2 separate regions of the Homo sapiens genome follow, and region 2 is linked to region 1. Evidence: fine-mapped expression QTL. A gene starts in region 1. The other region holds a variant in brackets. All regions are shown on one strand. Distances are from middle to middle. Region 1 holds the start of FAM124B (family with sequence similarity 124 member B). Region 2 overlaps FAM124B (family with sequence similarity 124 member B).

The links. PIP is the estimated chance that this variant, and not a neighbour inherited with it, causes the effect.
Region 2: its variant is the best candidate, but not a certain one, in a credible set for the expression of FAM124B in whole blood (INTERVAL, PIP 0.51).

The regions. Positions count from the first base shown.
Region 1 is chr2:224,400,970-224,403,889 of GRCh38, forward strand. FAM124B (family with sequence similarity 124 member B) reads right to left here and starts at 1,138. Exons shown (of 2, transcript NM_001122779.2): 1 at 68-1,138. The coding sequence starts at 799.
Region 2 is chr2:224,376,401-224,379,320 of GRCh38, forward strand. FAM124B (family with sequence similarity 124 member B) reads right to left here. Exons shown (of 2, transcript NM_001122779.2): 2 at 2,298-2,920. Among named protein-coding and RNA genes, the nearest start is that of FAM124B, 24 kb to the right of the region's middle. The variant G/T (reference allele first, on the strand shown) is at 1,447.

The sequences.
Region 1 (2,920 bases):
GCCCATTCCGATGTAAAATTACACAGCTCCATGAGCCTCTACAAGATCTGAGACAAAACAGAAATACCTGAAGCAGAATCTTGTTGCCATCGTAGTCCTGAGTCTGCCACCTGGTGCTGCTGATAGGCATGCATGGATTGGGTAGCAGAGGCACTAACTGGCCGATCTCTTGAACCTTAAACTGCAGCACCGAAGACTCTTTGGGGTCCACTGACATTCCCGGGGGCAGCTGCTTCAGGGAGAGCTGCAGAGCAAAGCTCTTGGAGGCATAGAGCACGAAGAAACAAAAATTGCTCTTTTGCAAGGTCGCTTCTCTCTGCAGGATCATCTCGTAGAGTCTGATGGCGTCTTCATAGTTATCAAAACTGCAGTACAGCGTCACCCTCAGGATCTCGGAGCCACAGTGCACCTGCCTCACCCCCCAGATGGGCAGCTGACTGTCCAGGCTGTAGAACTCCTGATTGGCAAAAAAGTAGGGACACAGCCTTCCCCGAGTGTCCTGGGTGGGGTAGCACTGCCATGGCGAATGCTGGAGAGAGTCCAGGACGCGAAATAGCCTATCCTCTCCCGGGCTTTCGTGCAGGAAGAGCAACACGGACATCCCTGGAAACCGGGACCGCTTGGAATGGGACTTTTCACAGTATTTCACAGGACTGGCCCGTTCAGACACCTGAAAGAGCCGGACCTCTGGGCAAATGCAATCCAGGAGCTGGTCCAGAGTCCTCTGCAGAAGGGAGCCGTGCCCAGAGTTGGCAAGAAGATGGACAGTCATGGCCAGAGGCCCCTGTGTCTCATCCATGGAGGAACTGCCTGAGGCTGACAAAGACAGCGTGTGTAGAAGGCCCACTGTTCAAGTTTCTGAAATGAATGAAGAAGCGGCCCAGCCTTCAGCCCGCCTGAAAACCTTCAGCTGCAGCGGCTACTTCTGAGCAGAGCTCTTAACCAGACTAACACGTGCTCCTGGCCACCCGTGGACTTACGGCAAGAGAAGCTCACACCAGCTCGGGTTCAGCAGCCTCCCTCTCCACACAGCAGCAGCGGGGTCACGTCATCCAGCTTGTGCATAATGTAACTGCTTGTGTTTAGCCTTTTCAGGCGTTCCCCAGGGTTTCTGCGTGACCTAAAAACCTATAATCCTGAGAAACACCCAAATGGGCGGCTCTTATAGACACTTAGTACAGGAAATGACCGGCCGAAAAGGAACATGAGTTGGCTCTGTTAGGCTGATAGCAATCTGTTTAGTTGAAAAGACATCCATTTTATCAACTTACAACGGGTTCTCATTTCCTACTTACGGTTTACAGTAGCCTGCTCCACCAATCTGAATACAATGACTTCTTGAAAACAATTCTCAAAACCTGACCCTTTGCCAGTTTTTTTTTTCCTTTGTCTCTTTATTTCATTTTGTTTCTGAACATTTTCTGCTAGGGCACGAAGAGAAGACTTTATCTAAATAATTTTGACTTCACTGAAAATTATTTGCTGTACCGAAAATTCTGAGTGTACTAAAAAGACATTGAGAAAATTAGTCTTCCTTTATTCACGCAAATTCTTTAGAAAGAGTGAGAGCTTTCCTATAATTGCTCATATAATTATAATAATAAATAATTATAATTAACAATTGTAATTATAATTTTTAGTGTCTAATGAGGATCTACTATGTACCAGTCATAAACTGTTCTAATTCTTAAAGTAATTAGTTTTGTTTTGTTTTGGAGATGGAGTCTTGCTCTGTCGCCCAGGCTGGAGTGCAGTGGCGTGATCTTGGCTCACTGCAACTTCCACCTCCCAGGTTCAAGAGATTCCCCTGCCTCAGCCTCCCCAGTACCTGGGATTATAAGTGCGCCAACACGCCCAGCTAATTTTTTTGTATTTTTAGTAGAGACTGGGTTTTGCCATGTTGGCCAGACTGGTCTCGAACTCCTGACCTCAGGTGATCTGCCCGCATTGGCCTCCCAAAGTGCTGGGATTACAGGCATGAGTCACCACACCTGGCCCTTAATGTAAATTAATTTAATCTTGCAACAAACCTATGAAGAAGAGATTACTAGCCCCAAATTACAGATGAAGAAACTGGGGCATAGAAAGGCTAGGTAACTTGCCCAAGGTCTCACAGCTAAGAAGTAGCTGAAGGATGATTTGAACCCAGGAACTTGCTGCACTGCCTCTCTGGGGCCTTGAAGTCCCAGCCTGGGTATTCTTCTTGTAAGGAAAAGATATAAAAGCAAGTTCTGGTTAAGGATCTAGATTTGCAGACTCTTGAGCTGTTGAATCTTAAACGGAATAATCTTCAATGAGAAAGTTGTCAAGCTCTAAACACTCACCCTAAATGTGTTCTAAATATTGATTTAAAAATTATTTGTGGCCACGCATAGTCGTCACGCCTTGATCCTAGTACTTTGGGAGGCCGAGGCGGGTGGATCACCTGAGGTCAGGAGTTCGAGACCAGCCTAGGCAACATGGCAAAACCCCGTCTGTACTAAAAACACAAAAATTAGCCGGGCAAAGTGGAGCATGCCTGTAATCCCAGCTACTCAGGAGGCTGAGGCACAAGAATCACTTGAATCCAGCAAGTGGAGGTTGCAGATCGCACTACTGCACTCCAGCCTGGGTGATAGAGCAAGACTCCGTCTCAGAAAATAAAAAATAATAAAAATAAATAAATAAATAAATATTTTTAAAAAATCATTTGCTCTCCTGATAGCTGTGCTCCTCAACAGGTATGAACAAGCACTTTTTCTAAACACAATTCTTTTTAAAAGAGGCAATTGGACCAGGCGAAGTGGCTCACAACTGTAATTTCAACACTTTGGGAGGCCAAAGCAGGACAATCGCTTGAGCCCAGGAGTTCCAGGCTGTGCTGACCTAAATTCATGCCACTGCACTCCAGCCTGGACAACAGAGCAAGACCCTGTCTCAA
Region 2 (2,920 bases), 25 kb before region 1:
CACACTTAATAGGCTACTGTATATTGTAAACATAACTTTTATATGCACTGGGAAACCAAAAAATTCATGGGACTTGCTTTATTGCAATATCTGCTTTATTGCAGCAGTCTAGGACTGAACCCACAATAGATGTGGATTTTATTTATAGAAAAATAAAGTATTCTGATCATCAGAAGACTTTCAGATTTAAAAAGTGACACATTATACATTTTAGGGAATACCGTCTAATTTAATTAAGTCTAATTAATTTGATAAATTGGATTGAGCTAGTTCATAGTTTATCCCTGTTGTATAAAATCTCTATTGAACTTTGGGATGCATTTGATTATTTGTTATAAATAATTTTCCTCTTAGCTATAGAAACATAAAGTAAATGGCACATGTAGTACAAATCTTAGAAAGGTGGATTTATTTTTTGTTGCCTCATTGATTTCACTAAAACTTGTTTCAAAAGAAGTCCTTTGTTCTCATGATATTTTTAAACTGTGGGTCCGAAGGACCAATGGTATTAATAATACACTATATTATATAATATACAATATAATACAATAATCATAAAAAACTCACACATTTATAATGCTTCATGAAATCCAGATGCTTTCATATACAACATCTTGATTCCCCTAACAATCTTTTGTTACAGTTGATAAAGCAACAGAGGACAAAGGAGCCTGACATGCTCAAGGTCACATCAATAGTAAATTTAAAAGTGAAACCAAAATCTGGGCCTCCCCACCCAGTTCACTGGTATTTCCATCCCATCATGTTGTAAATTGAATTCCTGTGTTGAGTAGTGTGATGGTTAATATTGAGGGTCAACTTGATTGGATTGAAGGATGCAAAGTATTGTTCCTGGGTGTGTCTGTGAAGCTGTTGCCAAAGGAAATTAACATTTGAGTCAGTGGACTGGGAGAGGCTGACCCACCCCCAGTCTGGGTGGGCACCATCTAATCAGCTGCCAGCGTGGCTAAAATAGAGCAGGCAGAAGAATGTGGAAGGACTAGACTGGCTGAGTCTTCTGGTCTTCATCATTCTCCTGTGCTGGATGCTTCCTGCCCTTGAACATCAGACTCCAAGTTCTTCAGCTTTGGACTCTTGGACTTACACCAGTGATTTGCCAGGGGTTCTAGGGCCTTCGGCCATAGACCGAAGGCTGCTCTATCAGCTTCCTTACTTTTGAGGTTTTGGGACTTGGACTGGCTTCCTTGCTCTTCAGCTTGCAGACAGCCTATTGTGGGACTTCACCTTGTGATTGTGTGAGTCAATACTCCTTAATAAACTCCCTTTCATATATACATCTATCTATCCTATTAGTTCTGTTCCTCTAGGGAACCCTGAATAATACAAGTAGGATAGAATAGATGACATTTTAAGGGTATATTATTTTACAAGTCAATTTTGTAAGGTGCCTGATTCACATTTCTCAATATTCTTTATAATTTTCAG[G/T]TACTTTTATTCTTACCCATGTATTATATTAAGAAAATTTAGATAACATCAAAAAAAAAGTGGGAAGGAAATTTCAAAACTTCTTCCTGCTGTGCTTATTCAAAGTTCAGTAGTTCAACTTCCTTTTTTGTTTTAACTCTTATTATAGAAAGCTATACCAAAGTTAAGCTCTTCATCCCGTTTTCTAAAATCAAATTGTAGTCTAGGGGAGAGAGAGACAAAATGGGAATGAGAATATGTTGATGTTTTAAGGACAAAAAATATCAATTGAGGAGTCTTGTCTTTGTCCATTTACAACTCTCCTCCGTTTCTATCCCTTTTGCGGAGAAGAGCACCCAAAATCAGCCTAGACTCACTTTTGCAAGATTTGACTTTAGGACTGAACTCATCTCTGTCTCCAGTTAGGTGTAGTAAGTCTCCAAGTCTCCAAAAGATCCAGCTAAATCAACATTTACACTCTTATGTAACATCTGTTCTGAGAGTGAAGTTCGTGGAATTGAATAACCTTATAAATGAACTGAAACACAGGCCTCGGGATTTTTAAACATGTGTGTACAGACATATCCAAAAAATTCAGCATATGGGCAACGAGAATTTGTCCATTGCAATTATAATTGCAATTCATAATATGCCCAGTCTCCATCTGCAGGTTGCAAATGCTTATTACACCATTATGTGGCCAGTGTGGGCCTCAACTGTGGAAAAAGTTTTTGGAGGAATATATTTGGAATTCAGTATCTTTTTAAAAGTTGGTAGAATGAATTTATCAGAGTGGTGAAACCATAAACACTTTTTGGGTTTCATGGCCCCAGAATGTATATGTACCATATACACAATGTCTTATTCAAATGTAGGTATTCAAAAAATGTTTATTGAATGAACATATATAAATGAATGAATGAGTGCGTTTTGTAAAGGAATCTGGGAGTCAAAATCTGGCCAGAAGAACCCAAGTCCTGCTCCAGTGACCAGATCAACCAGTCCAATTTTCCCACTGTGCTCAATGTTCCTCTTTGGTTTGTAACAAGAACCACTGTCCTCTTTGACATAGTGCAGAAACAAATGAGAAGCAGATGAGCAGGAAAGCCCTAGAGCCTAGCATTCATGTTCAACCTGATTTTCTGGCTTCCAGTATTTTGGCTCATTAAACAGGAAAACAAAATTAACTGTTTATAATTTTCAAAACACTTTGCATTTTCACTCATTCCAGATACAAACAACTTTAAAGACAAAATCACAAGGAGGGTATGTGAACAAGGCCTAGTTACCAAAAGAGGTCACATGAAAATTAAAAAGCATTCAAGAGTAAATAGCAGTCCATATTGTCCAGGGGGATGAGCTATGCAACCTAAGTAAAAATTAAAACCAAATTACAGACACTAATTAGTGTTGTATAACATACCGATTCATTTGCATACAATGCAATTATCCTGATAGGTGCTGGATTCAACACATCCAGCTGGGTTAGTGCATC